2 separate regions of the Homo sapiens genome follow, and region 2 is linked to region 1. Evidence: fine-mapped expression QTL. A gene starts in region 1. The other region holds a variant in brackets. All regions are shown on one strand. Distances are between the middles of the regions. Region 1 holds the start of EAF1 (ELL associated factor 1). Region 2 overlaps COLQ (collagen like tail subunit of asymmetric acetylcholinesterase).

Evidence for each region. PIP is the estimated chance that this variant, and not a neighbour inherited with it, causes the effect.
Region 2: its variant is fine-mapped to the expression of EAF1 in whole blood (TOPMed, PIP above 0.99). The same link has a PIP of 0.9 or more in blood mononuclear cells.

What each region holds. Positions count from the first base shown.
Region 1 is chr3:15,422,312-15,432,883 of GRCh38, reverse strand. It overlaps EAF1 (ELL associated factor 1), which reads right to left and starts at 5,286. Exons shown (of 6, transcript NM_033083.7): 1 at 5,002-5,286; 2 at 2,877-2,971; 3 at 661-797. The coding sequence starts at 5,104. It overlaps METTL6 (methyltransferase 6, tRNA N3-cytidine), which reads left to right and starts at 5,340. Exons shown (of 6, transcript NM_152396.4): 1 at 5,340-5,482; 2 at 6,249-6,597; 3 at 7,795-7,929. The coding sequence starts at 6,373. RefSeq lists an enhancer at 4,930-5,209 and a silencer at 5,206-5,369.
Region 2 is chr3:15,456,175-15,466,746 of GRCh38, reverse strand. COLQ (collagen like tail subunit of asymmetric acetylcholinesterase) reads left to right here. Exons shown (of 17, transcript NM_005677.4): 12 at 310-406; 13 at 8,422-8,561; 14 at 10,168-10,287. Among named protein-coding and RNA genes, the nearest start is that of EAF1, 34 kb to the right of the region's middle. The variant C/G (reference allele first, on the strand shown) is at 5,394.

The sequences.
Region 1 (10,572 bases):
AATTACTGTATTATAAGTGAGCTATGATTATGCCACTGCACTCCAGCCTGGGTGACACAGCAAGAGACCTCGACTCTTTAAAAAAAAAAAAATACTGTATTATATGGTAACAAATAGAACCACTAGGTTATTTCTATTTATAGAATGAATTTTTATTTTCAAATAAACTCTAACTGGCTTCATTTTAGACATGTAGCAACTGTTGAATTAAAGAGTTCACTATATTAAAAAATAGGCAAAGTTTTATTTTGGTATTATAGTAATCTCAAATGTATCTTGTAAAAAAATTAATGTTTTCACTCCAGTTAAGTATAGTATATATTGCTCCTTCATAATTATAAGTCTATAAGTTATCTTATCCCTTAGGTGGTACTGTAGCAATCATGAGATTAACAAAATAGGCTTAATTATAAAGTATATCCCCCTTTCCCTAATGGTTCCCATGTTTTAGGTCTTAAAAAACATTATTTCTTTTTATTGCATTTGAGGAAGACATATTTTACTCTGAGCACATATTTACATATTTTGTCTGAGCACAGGTAGTGTTAAGATTATTGATAGAACACTATGAGCAAGCAGATGTTCACAACCTTATAAAAACTGAATAGATAACAGAGGTTTGGAAACATGATATAAACCTGCATCTGGCTATTCACATACCTTGTTTTCTTCACCTGAATGCTGCTACTGAGTTTTTCCAGCACATATTCACCAGTGTCATGATTAATAATAAGCACACAGTCTTTCTGGTAAGGCCGTTTGTTCCCCTTGAACACAGTCATGGGTGGTGTGGATCCCTATTTGCCACAAAAGTATAAGATGATCAAACTAAACATACCAGTTATGAATATCAACTGAATTTATAGATGACTCCACCTGATGAAATCTTTTATCAGAGCTATTCAAAAAGAACAGGTTGAACTGATTTCTATTTTATCTCCTTCTGGTTTCCGAGGCAAAAATAAAGGAGAAATAATATAGCAAGAATTTGTGAATGTGCAACGCGTTCTAAGTAATCAAAAAGGTAGTATAAAAGTTTTAATTACTATATACGTTCCAAGAGAGAAAAATTAACCATTACTTTCATTATACTAAGCAGAGTTATCACTCTGTATAGTAAAACTGTGAGTGATCTCTATTTCTTTGTCATTAGAGAGACCAGGGTTTCCCCTTCTCATGTCAAGCAACCAACAGAGCATTTTCCAAGAGAAGGTCATTATCCTGGTTGGCTCAGAATAAATAAATCATGTCACTCATCTGCCTAAGCCTTTCAATCACTCCTCAATTGCTCTCAGGCCAAAGGATAAAATCTTTAAACTAGCCACTTGGCCTTGCACTACCGGGCCCTTCCCTGGCTCTCCACCTCACCCTGCAGCATACTCCCCTGCGCATGTGCTTCAGAGCAGAAGGCAACTGGCTTCCCTCCTATCCTCAAGCTCTCTCCTGCCTCTGGGCTTTAACAAGGCTTCTGCCAGCTTTAACAAGGCTTCTGCCAGCTATATCCTGCCCCCTCTCTTTAAATGACCCAACCTCCAGATCTGCTCACAGATACTTCCTTAAGGAAGCTGTCCCTGATTTTGTAGAATAACTGCTATATTTTCTTGTATTAATTTAAACTCCAGACCATAAGCTCCACCAGGGCAAGAAATGTGCTTGTTTTGTTCAAGGTTATATACTTCATGCCTAGTAATGGGCCAATGTGTGGGAGGCATTTGATTAATATTTGTTGAATATCATATTTAATGCCTTGCTTAGAATAAAAAACTGCTTGGCTCTTTGACTCCTTATTTATATAGTAAAAATATAGAGCTAGAAAGAACTTTAGGGACCATTTTTCTAAACCTTTCATTTTACATATGGGAAACTAAGGTCCAAAGGGAGATGATGTAACTTGCCAAAGGTAACAAGTAATCAAACAGCAGTTTGAATGGGCAATTTTTCCTCACCACAAAGCTTTCCAGATCTCCCTGTCCAGAGACTTTTCATTCTGTCTCCAGCTACCGAGAACTTATGTTCCAGGACAGGGGTGTGACATGCAATAACACATGTTCACTAAGAGCATCATGTGACCCTTTGGTGCTTTGTCATTAGTGCTGCCTTGGGCAGAGCTTCACAAAAGTCTTTCTCTGCAAGGGTTCTTAATCCAGCTTTCAATTTAGTTCTTCATCCCTAAATCAGCTGAATGTGCCACACCTGTGGTTCCTGCCTGCCTTAACTCCTGGCTTGGTTGCCTCACACTCCTGAGCTGTTGTGGCCATATAATCAGCAGGGCACCTAGGGCTTTTCTGTCTGGAGTTGCTTGGGAGAAAAGCTATATCTAAAAGAGGGGCTAGGTGTCCAGACAGGAACCTTGTCTACTCAGTAGCAGATGGGGGAAAAGGAAGATTGGGGAAAACGACGAATAATCTTTTTTTTTTTTTTTTTGAGGGGGAGTCTCACTCTGTCGCCCAGGCTGGAGTGCAGTGGCGTGATCTTGGTTTACTGCAACCTCTACCTCCCAGGCTCAAGCGATCCTCCCAGCTCCGCTTCCCAAGCAGCTGCAACCACAGACATGTGCCATCACCCCCAGCTAATTTTTTGTATTTTTGGTACAGACGGGGTTTCACCATGTTGCCCAGGCTGGTCTTTAACTCCTGAACTCAAGCTATCCACCCACTTCCACCTCCCAAAATGCTAGGATTACAAGAATTATTTTTAATCAAGCACCTGCCTAGCATGAAGTCCACCCCACCCCACTCCCCAAAATTACTTTTTTCCTTAAGTTGCCACTTTAGAAATCTAAACATTTTTAAAAGTAGGAAGTTTAAATTGCAATAATATAAAAGACAAAGATTCATTGTGATCTTACATTAAAAAAAAAAATGAAATAAACTCACAGGGATATGTGGCAGTGTAATTGTGACTTCATCTCCTTTGCCAACTTGAAGCTCTCCTTCACAGGAAGTGTCTATAGATGCTGGTTTAAAATCATCTAAAGGGAAAGGAAAAAAAGCACTTACCCACCAGGTTACTTATAATAAGGGTTTCCTGGGCATCTCCATTTAAGAATTAAAATTATTACTCAGATGAATGGAAAATAAAAATAATTTAGAATTCTTAAAAAACTGTTTCGTTATGGAAAACTTCAGATACACAAAAGTAGAGAGAATCGTACAATGAGACCTGGTATACCATTATCCAGTTTCAATTATTACCAACTCAGGGACAATCTTGTTTCATCTACACCTCCACATACTTTTCCTCTGACCCCCTTTTGATTATTCTAGAGGGAAAAAAGAATTTACAGGCCATTTTATTAAACAAAGATATTCCCTTCTCCCAAGGGAGAGAGGAAAATTGTCTCATCATCCATAATAAGTTGCTTTTTTAGGGTTGTGAGGATCAAAAGTAACAGCATATGAAACAGATTCTGTGACTGTAAACTCTATATGAAATATGAAAGGCCACAGCATCATCAAAAGCTGATTTCATTCCGCATAGAAACTGTCAAAATTAGGATTTGCCATACTCAAGTTCCATAGCTGTTTTTTGTTTTTTTTTTTTTTTAATAGTGATGGGGTCTCACTATGCTGCCCAGGCTGGTCTCAAACTCCTGGGCTCAAGCTATCTGTCGACCTCGGCCTCCCAAAGTACTGGGATTATAGTGTCAGCCACCACTCTCAGCCAGTTCCACAGCTTTAACAAAGACACTTCGTAGATGTTCATAGCAGACAACTGAACTGTATCTCCGCAAGTTATCCTGCTCGTGTTTCTAAACTGCAGTTAGAATACAACATAATAGCCATCTTAATTCACATTCACACCTGCCTCAAACTGCAGGACAGGTGCACACATGAACTATATGATTTAAATTCCACATTGCCCTTCACCAAAAGAAAACATCAACTTAGTAAACTCTTCAGGAAATGATGTTCTTATCTTATTCCCATCTCTTCTCTCTGAAAGAGCTGGATCTGCTGTCAGTAGGAAGCATAGCAATGGCATGGCAAGTGACTACACAAAGATGGGATTTCATTATCTAAAACGCCCTCTTCACATGTGTTGAGTCACATCTATTAGGTCCTCTGACAAAAACAAGTCTTAACAACAGCGTTAGCACCACGGAAACCAGAAGTTCATGAATCACGGAGGGATGCTCTGTCAGCCAATTCCTAACTGCCAAACCTTCACCCAGGACATAGGGTGGAAGTGCACTCTCTCAACAGCGTCTATAATTATGTAGAAAAAGGTCCGGCATAATGACTATTTGGACATTCCTTACGCCTGCTCTCTTCTGCTTCCAAACGTAGACCAATCTTTAACCTATCCCAGGCTCACGAACTCTGATTTGACTCTTTACCCACAAGGAACTTGGTCTGGAGGAAAAGCCCGGGTGGTATAGGTGACCTCAAAAGACATCCAAGTCAAATGAAGCACAGAAAGGAGATGGAAGAAGACTCTGATGAGGCGCAGAGAGGATGCCAATTCTTTGGCTGTAGAGGGGACAAAGCACAGTATTTGGGAGTCCAGGACCAAGTCGGAGGAGAAAAGCAGGGAAGAGAATGGGTTCTAAGGCAGTGGATGAGGCTCATAACAAACAAGAAGCGTCTTTTAAATGTGGAGAACCCTGATGGGAGCATCGGAAAGGAGGGGAGGGGTTTCGAGGGAGAAGTGGACCCGGATAAGAGGGGGGAGGTTTGCCTTGGGGGAGGGAGGTTTGCCTTAGGGGCGAGGTTGGGGGCGGGGAGGGATGGAAATGGAAAGAGGCCAAAGACCTTTGGAACTAGTGTTTGAGACTGTGAGGTAGAAGAATAGTAGGGAGTGACGAAGATTTGGGAGAAATAATCTGGGTAAAAGAAGGGACAAATCGATGTCCCAAAGGATTTGGGGTTCGAGAGAAAGTAACTGACGCTGGCAGGGGGTTCCCTGGAATCTGAAGGGCCGAGGGAAGAAAGGAAGGAGTCAAGGTTGATATGTGGCGGCTGGAGCGGCCGAAGGGAACCGTGGGGAGCGCTGACTTACAACGAATAGTGTGGAAGGAGGCCCGCGGCCGCTTCTCGAAGCTCTCCCCGAGCCTCAGGCAATGTTCCTCGCGGTCCAGCAGCGGGTTTGCGGTCCCATTCATGGCCCCGCACCTGCCTCGCACCCAGATCGGCGCTCTCCCGGTGCAGCCGCGATCCGAGCTTCTGGCGCTGGCGTCTGGGAGGACTGTGCTTCCGGGCCACCGCTCTGGAAGACAAGGAGAGCCGAGCCGGCACCCACCCGGGTCCAGAAGCAAGTTCTCTCCTCTGCGTGGGGGTGAGAGAGGAATCTGAGGAGGCAAGGCCGTGGGACTTCCGGCGTCGGGTAGGAACTTCCGGGTTCCTAGCGGAAGTGGCGGGGGCGGTGCCATGGCAAAAGAACTCCCGGATAATCCGAATTCGTGGTCCTCAGAATTGGTTTAGGGTTGTTTCGCGGTTCTTCCCGTATTCTGCCTCCGAGGCCCAGTGGGGCTGGCTGTGGGGTGAGTGCGCCTGGCCCTAGCCCTGCAGGTGAATTTAGGAACTGATGACGGTGAGCCCTGAGCGTGGCTGACTAAATTAACGCGGGTCGGCTAGCCATCATGGACGCCCTCCTCAGGGTCTAGGGGCCCATGCAGCCTAGTCTATCCTGAGGGTCCTGAGATGGATCCTCGGGACCTCAGCCACGCGTCATTGGGTCTCTTTCTCCACTTTGCCCGGTGATGGCGGTGCGAGGGTCTCAGTCCCTGCAAAGTGACGCTCCCTCTGGTTCCTATGACAGCCTCTTGTGAGTGTGATCAGGAAATGAGCCCACCCAGGCTTAGCTTCATTTCCCCCGAAAAAACGGAGGTCCGACCCTTGGGAAACGATGACCTCACTTGTATCTGACAATTGACCACCCGCTTCCAGCTAAGGCCATTGTGGTTTTTAAGTCACCCCTTTCGCGGGCACCGAAAATTGAGGAATATTTTCTTCGCAAGGTTTCCCAGTCAGTTCTTGAGAGCGTCCTTTTTCGTAAACTAAATCGATTTATTGTAATAGTTGACTCATCTGGTTTGAATAAAAGTATGGTGCATGAGATAGTCTGGCCACTGAAATGAATGTAAGCCCACTGAAGGTAGGGACTGTGTGTTTGTCTTCTTTGTGACCTCTCATATAGCGGGAAGGATTTTTTTTTGTACAGTCTGCATCTCATAAACATTTGGTGAATTGAACCTGGCGTCTTGAACTGTAACCACTAACCAGAATCTAATTCTTTTCTCTGCGAAGCCCCCTGTGCTGTTTGAGGCGTGAAACTCACCTCAGGAAATGTATCTGATCCATTAGCGTGGATTCATATTATTTGGTGATGGAGAATCTTCAGCTGTGTTAAGTGTTACCGTCAGTTTCAGAGATGGCTTCTTTGCAAAGGAAAGGGCTGCAGGCAAGGATTCTCACCTCTGAAGAAGAGGAGAAACTGAAAAGAGACCAAACTTTGGTGTCTGATTTTAAACAGCAGAAATTGGAACAAGAGGCTCAGAAAAATTGGGATCTTTTTTACAAAAGAAATAGCACTAATTTCTTCAAAGACAGACACTGGACCACCAGAGAGTTTGAGGAGCTAAGATCATGTAGAGAGGTAAGCTAATATTACGCCTTATCTGAGCTGTTCTTCATTTAAAATGTGAAGAGGGTGCCATGGCTCATGCCTGTAATCCCAGTACTTGGGGAGGCCAAGGCAGGCGGATCACGAAGTCAAGAGATCGAGACCATCCTGGCCAACATGATGAAACCCCGTCTTTACTAAAAATACAAAAATTAGCTGGGTGTGGTGGTGCTCGCCTGTAGTCCCAGCTACTTGGAAGGCTGAGGCAGGAGAATCGCTTGAACCCGGGAGGCGGAGATAGCAGTGAGCCGAGATTGTGCCACTGCACTCCAGCCTGGTGACAGAACGAGACTCTGTCTCAAAAGAAAAAAAAATGTGAAGAGGTGTGCTGTATTGCATTCCTAGGGAGAGTGCGAAGTAGAGAATTTAAGAAGCCTATCAAAATGCTTTGCGTTTTAGGAGAGAAATATACTGTTTGGTCTTAACACCAAAGTTTTAGCAGTTTCTGGTTTGGTTAACATATAGGAGAGAGAACTTTAGTGGGTGTTTTCTATTTCTTTAAGCTGATCTGATAGTTGTAAACATTATATATTAAATTCAAGAGCCAGGTCTGGTGGCTATTGCCAGCTACTCCAGAGGCTGAGGCAGGCGGCTTGTGCCTGTGAATAGTCAACATGAATTAGCCAAGCCTAGGCAGCATAGTGAGACCCTATGTTCTGAATTTTAAAATTTTAAACATTAAAAATTTTAAAAACAAAAATATAAATTCATGCTAAGTGACTTCAGTGACAGATTCAGAATAATATAATAGTTAATGTTAGTAACTATTTACCATGGCTGTTTTCTACATGGCCTATCATTTGACCCTTATACCGGCTCTGTGAAGTGTAAGTATTAGTATTGTACTCATTTGTCCCCAAGGTAAAATTGAGGCACAGAGCTGTTTAAGTGATTTACCCAAGGATAGAATGCAGGGGAGGAGTTGAGATTTGGGTGCTGGCAGTTTAACTCCAGAGCCGAGTTAGCCATTGTGCTGTTTTTTTCCTCCACACCAAATTGTTAATGTTGGATGACAAATGAAGTACCAGTATTAGCTTTTGCTTATTAGTTCTCTTGTTGATCGTCTGCTCCATGGGGTCGGAGACCTCTCATATTCTGGACCTTTTAGTTTGGTTTATTTCTTCATTATGCAAATGTGATATACTATAACTTTGAGCTGTCTTTCCCCAGTTTGAAGATCAAAAGTTAACAATGCTTGAAGCTGGCTGTGGGGTTGGAAACTGTTTATTCCCACTTTTAGAAGAAGATCCGAATATCTTTGCCTATGCCTGTGATTTTTCTCCAAGAGCCATTGAATATGTTAAGGTTGGTGCACCATCTATGTATTCTGCTGTGTTTCTGTTTTCTTGCCGATCTTGTTTGATCTGCCTTTTTTATTCATTTGCCCAATTCTAGTCTTCCCTGGAGCTAACCAGCTATAGTCACCATACATGTAGTTGTCCTGCTTACATACATATACAGTGCATGTAGAAACACAGCTTTATTCAAGAAAAGCAGGAAAAAATACCATAATAACATCCATATAATTAACATCTTTTGCTTTACAATTTTTCTTTGCTGAACTATTTTAAAGTATATTACAAATGTCAAGACATTTCACTCCTAAATGTTTGCATACATCTCCCCTTAAAAAAGGCCTTTTTCTACACAACCACAATAAGTTTATCATATTTCACAAAAATAACTATAATCTGGCCTGCCATGTTGGTTCGCACTTGTAATCCCATCAGTTTGGGAGCCTGAGGCTGGTGGATAGCTTGCACCCAGTAGTTCAAGACCAGCCTGGGCAACATGGTGAAACCTTGTCTCTACCAAAAATACAAAAATTAGCTGGGCATGGTGGTGCTTACCTGTAATCCCAGCTAATTGGGAGGCTGAGGTGGGAAGATCACTTGAGTCAGGGAAGTGGAGGTTGCAGTGAGCCAAGATTGCAGCACTGCACTCCAGCCTAGGTGACAGAGCAAGACTGTCTTTAAATAAACAAATAAAATAACATAATCCCCCAATGTTATTAACATCCATTCCAAATTCAGATTTCCCCAAATAGTTCCCGGTGTCTTTTAGTTTTATTTTTTACTTTTTTTAGAGATGGGTTCTTTGTCACCCAGTTGAAATGCAGTGGCATGAACATGGCTCACCACAGCCTCAACCTCCTGGGCTTAAGCGATTCTTTCACCTCAGCCTCTCAAGTAGCAGAGACAATTTTTTAATTGTTTGTAGAGATGGGGTCTCACTATGTTGCCCAGGATGGTCTCAAACTCCTGGGCTCAGGTGATCAACCTGCCTCAGCCTCCCAAAATGCTGGGATTACAGGTATGAGCCACTGTACCTGGCTTCCAGGTGTCTTTTATAGCTGGTTTTTGTTTTTGTTTTTGTTTGAGACATGGTTTCACTCTCACCCAGGCTAGAGTGCAGTGGCCCAATCACAACTCACTGCAGCCTTGACCCCCCTGGCTCAAGCAGATCCTCCCACCTCAGTCTCCCAAGTAGCTGGGACTACAGGCATGTGCCACCGTGCCCAGCTAGTGTTTATTTGTTTATTTATTTATTTTAGAGATAAGGTCTCACTGCGTTGCCCAGGCTGGTCTCGAACTTCTGGGCTCAAACAATCCTCCCACCTCAGCCTCCCAAAGTGCTGAGATTACAGGCGTGAGCCATGGCAGCTGACCCTGGCTAGTTTTTAAATTTTTGTAGAGATGAGGTTTCCCTATGTTGCCTAGGCTGGTCTCAAACTCCTGAGCTCAAGCAATCCTCCCTCCTCAGACTCCCAGAGTGTGGGATTACACCCTGCCTATAGCTGTTTATAATCCAGTCAAGCACTACCTCTTACACTTATGTCCTTTATTTTTTATTTTAGTTTATTTTTTGAGACGGAGTCTCGCTCTGTCGCCTAGACTGGAGTGCAGTGGTGCAATCTCAGCTTACTGCAACCTCCACCTCCTGGGTTCAAGTGATTCTCCTGCCTCAGCCTTCCAAGTAGCTGGGATTACAAGTGCCCACCACTCCTGGCTAATTTTTGTATTTTTAGTAGAGATGGGGTTTCGCCATGTTAGCCACGCTGGTCTCAAACTCCTGGCCTCAGGTAATCCACCCGCCTTGGCCTCCCAAAGTGCTGGGATTACAGGCGTGAGCCACCACGCCTGGCTCACTTATGTCCTTTAAATCTCCTTAACCTAAAATACCCTTGCCCTACCCCATACCTCTTTCCACATTGATGACAGATGAAGCCAATTTTCTATAGTAAATTTCCAAATTGGTCTAATTGTTTATTTGCATTACTGTTTAATTTATTCCTCTATGTTCTATATTATCTGTGAACTAGAAGTTAAATTTAAATCAGGTAAAATATTTTTGGCAAAAATGCTTTAATAGGTAATGTTGTGTCTTGCATATTACATCCTGTCATGAGGCAATAATATCTGGAGATCTTACTGGTTTTGATCACAGGGTTAAGATAGTAACTACCTAATTCCTCCATTGTAAAATTCCCTTTGCCATTAACCAATATGTGGGGAACACTTTGGTGACATTGCAAGTATCTCGTTCCCCATCAACCTTTCACAGTTTTAGCATTCGTTAGACTTTTTAAAATTTAAACTTTTTTTTTAAGTTAATCTTATTATTATTATTTTAATTGACATGGTCTTGCTTTGTCACCCAGGCTGGAGTGCAGTGGTGTGTATTAGAGCTCACTGCAGCCTCAAACTCCTGAGCTGAAATGATCCTCCTGCCTCTGCCTCTCAAGCAGCTGGGTCTACACGCACATACTACCACCCCTGGCTAATTTTTGTATTTTTTTGTAGAGACAGGGTTTCTCCATTTTGCCCAGCCTGGTCTTTCTGAACTCAAGTGATCTGCCTGCCTTGGCCTCCCAAAGTGCTGGGATTACAGGCATCAGCCACCGCATCCAGCCTATTTTTATTTTTTATTTTTTGAGATAGGGTCTCA
Region 2 (10,572 bases), 34 kb before region 1:
ATAGCTCATTTCTAGGCCTCCATTTCCTCATCTGCCCAGGGCCTAGAGTAGATTTGACTGGTTCCTTTCAGCTGCCATGTGCCACATTTGTAGAGCAAGAACTAAGGTCTACAAATTTGTAGCCATCACTATCTCAAATGTCACTTGCCCTAAGCTTATTAAGAGCTCGATGGTCAAGACCTCTGGAGCTGCATCCCCCACTGGGCTCTTGCTCCTTAAGTGCAAGGTGATCTCTGATTTGGTGATAAATGGGGCGGGAAGCTTGCTATGTCATGCTTTCATAACAGGCTCTGCCTTTCTCTCTGTCAGGGACAGAAAGGGGATAGTGGAGTTATGGGCCCACCAGGCAAGCCTGGGCCTTCTGGTCAACCTGGCCGTCCGGGGCCCCCAGGCCCCCCACCTGCAGGTAAGAGCTACACTGCTTCACTTGATCCACTGTTGGAGTACTGGCCAGCCTCCCAGAGAGGGCACAAGGAGATGCCAGCAGAGATGCCTTGTGTTTCAAGTTAGAAACTACCAGAGACACTCCAATATCTTTGTAATTTCTCCACGATTTAGCTCATTCAACTTTTATGCAAGAGAGATAAATGCCATTCTGAATTTGTTTTAGCATTCTGGAGAACAAATAGAGGACAGAAAAAAAGCACATTAATGATGTCATTTATACCTTAAGTGAAAAATAACAGGAACATATTTCATCAACTAATACCTTTTTCTAGATAAAAGTGTCATGGCTCCAAGCAATTCTCTTAAACCTAGAAGTAAAGGTGACATTGCAGGTTTTTTCCAATTTACAGTGTTATAAAAGAGTCCTTATTTGTTTGCAATAGCTAGAGAAAGAGGCTGGGCATGGGTGGCTCACGCCTGTTATTTCAGCACTTTGGGAGGCCGAGACGGGCAGATCACTTGAGGTCAGGAGTTTGAAACCAGCCTGGTCAACCATGGCAAAAACCGTTCTGTTTTTGCTAAAATACAAAAATACAAAAATTAGCCTGGCATGGTGGCACGCGGCTGTAATCCCAGCTACTCTGAGGCTGAGGCAGAAGAATCACTTGAACCTGGGAGGCGGAGGTTGCAGTGAGCTGAAATTGTGCCATCTCGAAACTCTGTCTCCAAAAAAAAAAAAAAAAAAAAAAGATGTAGAAAGAAATTACTAAAATAAAATAAAAAAATAAAAAGTTGGCTGGGCGCGGTGGGTCACGCCTGTAATCCCAGCACTTTGGGAGGCCGAGGTGGGCAGATCACGAGATCAGGAGATTGAGACCATCCTGGCTAACACGGTGAAACCCCATCTCTACTAAAAATACAAAAAATTAGCCGGGCGTGGTGGCGGGCGCCTATAGTCCCAGCTACTTGGGAGGCTGAGGCAGGAGAACGGCATGAACCTGGGAGGCGGAGCTTGCAGTGAGTCGAGATCGCGCAACTGCACTCCAGCCTGGGTGACAGAGCGAGACTCCATCTCAAAATAAATAAATAAATAAATAAATAAATAAATAAATAAATAAATAAATCAAAATATAAAGTCTGTTATTGAGAAGGGCATAGATACACTGCTTCCTTGTATGTTGTTTTCAAGACGGAGCCTTGCTCTGTCGCCCAGGTTGGAGTGCAGTGGTGCGATCTTGGCTCACTGCAACCTCCACCTCCCGGGTTCAAGTGATTCCCCTGCCTCAGCCTCCTGAGTAGATGGGATTACAGGTGCCTTCCACCACGCCTGGCTAATTCTTGTATTTTTAGTAGAGATGGGGTTTCACCATTTTGTTCAGGCTGGTCTGGAACTCCGGACCTCGTGATCCGCCCACCTCGGCCTCCCAAAGTGCTGGGAATACAGGCGTGAGCCACCACACCCAGCTGCTGCTTCCTCTTTTACCTCATTCAATTTTATTAGCTAAGCCCTTTATTTCGTTCCCTTGTCAGCTCATGGTAGGGGCTTTCACAGCACATCAACTGTATAAAGACAGTATCAAGAAGATCATTTGTTGACTGCAACATTTTCTGTCTTCAGTTATACAAAAGGAATCCAAACAATTTTTATTCCAACTTTTTTCTTAAGAAAATGAAGACATTTACAATTCCACAGTGTATTCCCCCTCCTCCTGTGTTTATGGAACTATATTTGCAACCACATCATGGGATGGGCAAGAAATGTCATATTTTGTTAGATCCTTTAAACTAAGTTAAATCTGGCTCTGAGAGTCCAACCTACTAGGATGCCAAATAAATTAATTCAGGCATTATTAGGATTTTCACTACTCCTCCAACAACCACAAATAGGTTGGGCAAAGATCCTGGTGAATTATGGCAGAAAAATGTCAGGGAAGGTCCCTCCAACCTTTGGTCTACTCCATTCACCTCTGAAATAGAGTAGAAATAGAAATAGACTTGTTGTCCAAGTCCCTGTGGTCCACAGATACCTGGTGGCTGCTGTTCTCATGCCATACGTGGGTATCAGAACATTTTCAAGGCTGGGAGTCCTGGTCCCCACAGTTCAACTTTCCAAGGAGCACCCCACAACCATTCTTTCTGAGACCTGTCTCTTTCTCAGGATACAAGGGGTCCCTCTCCTGTCCATGTCTAGGGAGGTCTCTCCTCTTCCATCCCTGACCCCTCCTTCCTCATACTCCTCATATACCAGCACCCCAATTAGGAGCTTTGTCCTTCAGAGAACAGAAGGCAGAAAGAAAAGTTTGTTTCCAATAGTACCTGCTTTTAGCAAGGGCAAGAAAGCACAAACTCTTGCTACCTCCTTGAAATAGGGAGAGGAGGAAGGAAATACTGGGAGAACAAACACTGATTAGTATGGGTAATAACTTATGTTTGCTGCGCCTGTTTCCATGTTGTTAGGGGAATCAGATTTGAGATGCAGCCCAGGCCATGTGCCCACACTCCATAATTCATTTCTGGAATTGGCTGGATGATCTGAATGGGGGTCCTTTCAACTAGTCCTCTTCCTCCTTGGTTCTGGAAGGCATGATGTCCCCCTGGAGCCCCATAACTATGAGCTACCAACCGCAGAGACTGAGAGCTTGGCCTGAGTTGTGCCTTCAGAAGGGACTCTCTTGGCCCCTGGGGTACCTAGGGGCTCACAAAACTGAGGAGTAGGCCAGGCGCGGTGGCTCACACCTGTAATCCCAGCACTTTGGAAGGCCGAGGTGGGCAGATCATGAGGTCAGGAGATCGAGACCATCCTGGCTAACACAGTGAAACCCCATCTCTACTAAAAATACAAAAAATTAGCCGGGCGTAGTGGCGGGCGCCTGTAGTCCCAGCTACATGGGAGGCTGAGGCAGGAGAATGGCATGAACCCGGGAGGCGGAGCTTGCAGTAAGCCAAGATCGAGTCACTGCACTCCAGCCTGGGTGACAGAGCAAGACTCCATCTCAAAAAAAACAAAAAACAAAAAACAACAAAAACAACAAAAAAAAACAAAACCAAAACCAAAAAAAACTGAGGAGTAGTCCAGGGGCAATGGGATTGGTGGATGTGGGATGTGTAGGAGATCCTTAGCGGACTGGGATCTTAATGGTCTCACTGTGTTTATCTCTTTGTAAAGGCCAGCCCTCACCTGACTTGTCTGGTTCCCTCCTGGGGCTAGGGGATGGATGAGAAGGGCTAGGCTGGAGCTGTCAGCAGCTTCTTGGTGCCTGCTGTTTCTCTTGTCTTGTCTGTCTTCGGTGTATTGCAATCCTGTCCTCTTAGCAGGCCCCGCAGAGTCATACTTTTTCTCCCTGGCCTTCCAGCTCCCTCTCTTCCACCCAGTATGCCCACCTCCCTCTCCCTTGACTACCCCAGCCTCTGCCCAATCACGCCCTGCCCTCTACCCTTCAGAGGACACCTTGCCGTCTGTGGAGCTGGAGCTATTCCTATGGTCTCTCTGGGTCCACATGACCTTACATGGCACTCCTCTCACCTTCTGTCCATCCAACAAAATTCTCTGTTCCTTTGAAGCTCTCTTTTCAGTAAGGCCTTCCTTGGCCCCTAACAGGATGGATCACCCTCCCCTGAGCCCTGGTCATTGCCTCTCTGTTATGGCCTCTCCATTGGTAACGTTTCTGCAGATGTGTTTCATCTTCCCACTAGATCCTTGAGGGCGAGGTAGGCGGCTGAGTCAGCTTCACATCCCCAGTGGCACCTGGTATGTGGGTGGACAGGGCTGCTTCCTGCAGGGGCTCCCAGGCAGGGGTTCTGTGGGTTCACAGTTCATCTCCTTAGGAGCCAAGCAGGGTGGGACCATCTCTTTGGATTGATGCCCCCGCCCCCCATTCCGTCCTTTGAGCCACTTCCTTTCTGAGGAGGCTTCCTGAGTGAGCGGGCTGAAGAAGGTAAAGAGAAGATGGGGCAATAAATAATCCTGCTCTTTGGAAAATATTGGAGGGGTGGGGAGAGAGGGCAAGGAAGGAGTTAAAAAGAGATATTCAGCCGGGCGCGGTGGCTTACGCCTGTAATCCTAGCACTTGGGGAGGCTGAGGTGGACGGATCACTTGAGGTCAGAAGTTTGAGACCAGCCTGGCCAACATGGTGAAACCCCCATCTCTACTAAAAATACAAAAATTAGCCGGGCATGGTAGCGGGCACCTGTAATCCCAGCTACTCAGGAGGCTGAGACAGGAGAATCACTTGAACCCGGGAGGCGGAGGTTACAGTGAGCCGAGATCTCGCTACTGCACTCCCGCCTGGGCGACAGAGTAAGACTCCATCTCAAAAATAAATAAATAAATAAATAAATAAATAAATAAATAAATAAATAAGTTATCCCTGTGCCTGGGACCAGTTGGATAATCATCCAGAGTTGGACTAGGCCCCCCAAATTGGTTCCTGACACTACCTTTGACAGTCTGATGAAAGTCCCAAACCCATTCTCGGGGGGGAAAAAACTGTATATACCTACATCCAAGGTTTTGCACCCTGTTTCCCAGGGTTCCAGAACCCCTGTCCCAGCGCCATCGTGAGATAGCCTTGGCCTCTGTAGACCACAGGTTAAAACTCCCCTGGTCTAGTCCTACCCTCCCCTTAGAGAAAAGAATCTTGAACCTCAAAGAGAAGTGATGCCTGCAAGGTCACAGCAGTGACTGGGGGCCACCCTGGTCCAGAATGGGTGAGTGTCAGCCAGGCGGCCCTAGAGGTTGTTGTGCTGGTTCCTCTGCCCTCTCCTAGATTCCCCTTTCCTGATCCTTTCCCACTGAGGCAGCCAATGGAAGCGGGAGCCTGCCTGGGAAAAGATGGAGAGCCAGGTCCTCTGGCTGCAGGGGGTGGCGATGAAACCCAGCTGAGACATGATCTCCCAGAGGTCAGGGTGGGGAAGTTCAGGTTGCTGAGTCCTTTAGTATAGCCTGGCAGAAAACAGGCAGGGGTAACAGATGCCCTGCAGCAACTGGGAGGAAGCTGCAGGGAAA[C/G]TGCAGTGGTGGCAGCAGGCTCCCTGCCACATCCTGTTGGGAGGTGACCTCGGTTTCTGGTGCCCAGCTCTGTGGGACCAGATGGTGCTGGGGGAGGTGGAAAGGGTGAGAGCTTTGTACTTATCTGAGTTAGAGGGTAAGAGGGGCTAAGAGGTCGGGGGGGGAATAAAGGCAAAATGCCTTTAGGATGTAATTTGCAATAATCAAATTACAAATTTGGCTGAGTCCTTCCTGTACCCAGACAGAGTATAAGTGAATCAACGTGGTACCTGGGAATTGCCAGCTTCCTGAGAGCATCAGTATTCTTGGACATTTGTCTTTTGAACAGCATAGTGTTAAGTAAAACATGAATTCAAATCTCAGCCTCACCATTCATCAGCAGCTAATGGGACAAACTCCTGACTGTCTCTCAGGCCATGGTTCTGGAGGAGTTGTTGGGGTCACAGAGCCTTCTGGAAGGCTGTTCCAATGCCACCCTCATATTCTTGGTCACAGAGCTTTTCCACTTCAATTTCCCCAAGTGCTTAATTACCCAGAATATTCCTAGCCTGGTGGATTCCCTGTCTCTCTGGGCTCTTCTGAAAATATCAGAACACAGACTGGAGCTCTTCCTACAGAATTATATTTGTATTTCTTGTTAGAACAAACAACCATAACTTAGGATAAGATATTGGCACAGTGCCCTTCCCCTCATGCTGTCAGCATTCTGATTGTACGAATACCTGTCAACTCGCTCAGGAAAGTTCAGTCTCCTCCGACTGCAGTGTTTTCCCTGGGGTCCTGGCCAGATCTCTCCCCTGGGGTCATTTTATTTCCTGCCCTTCTGGATCTGTGAACTGTGTTCCCAGCCCCTGGCTGCCCCAGATGTCATACTGCCTGACACCAATGACTGGCTGGCCTCCAAACCCACCCCTCGCTATTTTCCCAGAAGAAGGGATCCTTACCTATTTCTCTTCTCAGTCCCCATCTTTTTTTCTCTTTCCTCACTTCCTGTTAGATGGCTTTTGTTCTGGTGCTTTTCTGCCAGCCAGAATGTGACTTTTACCCTCTTCTGAAGACTTTTTCTCTCCAATTAGTCGGCATTCATTCATTCGATCATCAAACACTTTCCATGCCCCTACTTTGTGTAAGCCCTGGTGGATGAAAACAGGCACTAGCCCTGTCCTTGTGGAGCGACATTCTACTGGAGATCAACCTTGATGGAATAATCTCACAATATATAGAATCACAAAGAGAAGTGCTGTGAAGAAAGGCATAGGAAACCATGAAATTGTATCCCAGGTATACATGACAGAGTCTGAGGATTCAAAAAGTCTTCCTTCAAGAAGTGATGTTTGAACCCAGATCAGAAGGGAGTTGAGAGGCAGCTGGGGAGGGATGGAGGATGAAGGGAGGATGATCTGGCAGGGGAATGGCCCAGTTCTCAACCTTGGGGCAAATTGGAATCATCTTGAGAGCTTTTAAAAATATGGATGCCTAGCACATGTATACATATGTAACTAACCTGCACATTGTGCACATGTACCCTAAAACTTAAAGTATAATAATAATAATAATAATAAAATATGGGTGCCTGACCAGGCGCGGCAGCTCACACCTGTAATCCCAGCACTTTGGGAGGCCAAGGGAGATGGATCACTTGAGGTCAGGAGTTCGAGACCAGCCTGGCCAACAGAGTGAAACCCTGTCTCTACTAAAAACACAAAAATTAGCCAAACCTGATGGCACGTGCCTGTAGTCCCAGCTACTCAGGAGGTTGAGGCAGGAGAATCACTTGAACCTGAGAGGCGGAGGTTGCAGTGAGCTGAGATTACACCACTGCACTTCACCCTGGGCGACAGAGTGAGGCTCCGTCTCCAAAAAAAAAAAAAAAAAGGATGCCTTATGCTAAAGTGGTAAAAAAATTTTTTTTAATAAATAAATAAAAGTGTGGATGCTGCCTAGGTTCAGTTCAGTTTTCAGAAGTCTTGATGGAATTGGTCTGAGGTGTATCCTGGGTATCAGAGCCTTTAAAAACCAAGGTACTACCCTCACAGTTCTTCCACATTGCTAGGGAGTACACTTTCTGATCATATCTTTTCAAGACATGTCCTCACTTCTTCAGCACCAGGGGAGGGTAAATGGGCAGAGCATATACTAATGTTCTATTTTCTTCCAGAAGAAATGAAAGAAACCCACATCCAGAAATTCCTCTGTAAAGATCCTACATTGGCTGGGTATGGTGGCTCACGCCTGTAATCCCAGCACTTTGGGAGGCTGAGGTGGGCGGATTACTTGAGGTCAGGAGATCGAGACCAGCCTGGCCAACATGGCAAAACCCCGTCTCTACTAAAAATACAAAAATTAGCCTGGTGTGGTGGCACACACCCGTAATCCCAGCTACACAGGAGGCTGAGGCAGGAGACTCACTTGAACCTGGGAGGCAAAGGTTGTAGTGAGCCAAGATCGTGCCACTGCACTCCAGCCTGGGCAACAGAGCAAGACTCCATCTCAAAAAAAAAAAAAAATTCTATATATAAGAAAAACAAAAGTTTTTTAAAACAATAAAAGTTAACAGTCAATAATGTGTTTGTCGGCAAGAAGCCCTCTGTTAATAATGGTCTAAACAAATAAGACATTGTTTTTCTCCAATAAAGAAATCCAGAGGCAGGCAGTAGCTGGCTTTGATTCAGCCTCTGACTGTCACTGTCAGGGCCCCAGGCCCCATGAGCCTTTCGTCTTTCCTGCATGTTGGCTTATCTTCTCATGCTTGTGACTTCCTGGTTGCAACACGGCTGCTGCAACACCAGACATCTTGCCTGTCTTCAAGGCAGGAAGGAGGGGGAAACTATCGCCTACCAGCTATTTTTCTTACCTTAGCTCCTCCATGTCTTGGATCAAAAGCATCTCTTTGAACCTCTCCCTCAGGCATACCCTGAAATGCTGTGGACTTTAACCTTTTTTCTGTTGCAAAGGTCGCTCACATCTCCCTGGTTGTTTGGTCTTCTCTTCCTTGGCTCTAGTAACACAGCAGTCTGTTGCTTCCTAGGACAACTTATAATGGGACCCAAAGGGGAAAGAGGATTTCCCGGGCCTCCAGGAAGATGTCTTTGTGGACCCACTATGAATGTGAATAACCCTTCCTACGGGGAATCTGTGTATGGGCCCAGTTCCCCGCGAGTTCCTGTGGTAAGGCTTTCTGGGAGAAGTCTGGGGTGGTTATCCGTGAGGACCTCTCACCTGATCCTTATGGGGCTTTGTAAAATCCTTTCAGTAAAACTAACTTTTTTTCACGACTCTGAGTACACCCTCATTATAGGAAATTGGAAAATATGAGAAAATCAAGAGGAAAACCAAATTGTCCATTTGATTGTGAGTCCATTTTGGGGTATTTTCTTTGTCTTATTAAAATCTAACTTTTATATGGTTGAGATTATATTGTATAAAAATGTACTTTTGGCCGGGCATGGTGGCTTATGCCTGTAATCCCAGCACTTTGGGAGGCCAAGGTGGGTGGATTATAAGGTCAGGAGTTCGAGATCAGCCTGGCCGATACAGTGAAACCCCATCTCTACTAAAAAATATATTTAAAAAATTAGCCGGGCGCGGTGGTGCACGCCTGTTGTCTCAGCTACTTGGGAGGCTGAGGTGGGAGAATCGCTTGAACCCAGGAGGCGGAGATTGCAGTGAGCTGAGATAGCACCACTGCACTCCAGCCTGGGCAACAGAGCGAGACTCCGTCTCAAAAAAAGTTATACTTTGTTATCTTAGTTGAAATCCTGCCATGTTTCCACACTCTATAAATAACATTTTAAACTTTTTATTAGGGAAAATTTCAAATACATATAAAAGCAGAACAAATAGTGTAATGAACCCCTGTGTACCCTTCACCCAACTTTAATAATGATCAACTCATGGCGAGCCTGTGTCCTTGTTTTCTCTTTATGCCTACTCACTCCTGCCCATTCTCTGTTGTATTATTTTGAAGTAAACCTTGGACATCTGTTCATCATAATCATCCATCTAGTGTGGCTGTGCTACAATTTACTTAACCAGTGTTGGTGTTTAACCAACCTATTGCTTATTGGCCACCCCCAAGCTTTTTACTAATGTAAATAATGCTGTAAAGAATATCTTTGAGTAGGATAATTTTAAGAATCACTTCCAGATGTCAAATTACTTGACTATATGACATTGCCTTTTAACTTAAGTCTTGGGAACGTTTTAAATATTTAAAAATGTTAAATCCGAGGCCGGGCGCGGTGGCTCATGCCTGTAATCCCAGAACTTTGGGAGGCCGAGGTGGGTGGATCACCTTGAGGTCAGGAGCTCGCAACCAGCCTGGCCAACATGGCGAAACCCTATCTCTACTAAAAATACAAAAGTTAGCCAGGCATTGTGGTGCACACCTGTAATCCCACCTACTCGAGAGGCTGAGGCAGGAGAATTGCTTGAACCCGGGAGGCAGAGGTTGCAATGAGCCGAGATCACGCTACTTCACTCCAGCCTGGGCAACCGCGTGAGACTCCATCTCAAAAACAAAAGAAAAAAAGAAAAAAAAGTTAAATCCGAGTGAATATTTTAGTTTCAAACTCAGACATTAGGAACTCGATTGAGAAGATGAGGGAATCAAGACACTCCTCTCACTTCAGAAGGAATGCTAGAGTGTAGTGTGCAAACCCCTCTTCCCACTGTTGAGCAGCCCAAGGATAGAGATTCTGTTTCCTCCTCCAGCTTTTTTCCTGCCCCCTGCAGAAGTGTTTTCTGGAATCCTCACCAGTGTGTTCTCTGGCAGATTTTTGTGGTCAACAACCAGGAGGAGCTTGAGAGGCTGAACACCCAAAACGCCATTGCCTTCCGCAGAGACCAGAGATCTCTGTACTTCAAGGACAGCCTTGGCTGGCTCCCCATCCAGGTACCCCCAGGCCATTACCTCAGGACATACTCCCTGCCCAGGAGAGAGATGCATCCATTAAAGGAAGGGAAGGCCACCCCACTGGGCCTGGGGAGGGCTTTCTACAGTCTGTCTGCATGGGAGGGCTGAGCATCCTCCCTCAAACTCTCTCTGAGCAGCCCTCCATTCCCCCACCCTGACTCCCAAATAGAAGCCCCTCTCTGAGCCAGGGTTCCAGATGGTCTCCACATCCCTGCGTGCCAGGTTGCTGTCTTGATCTGACCCAACATTTAACCAGCTACAGAG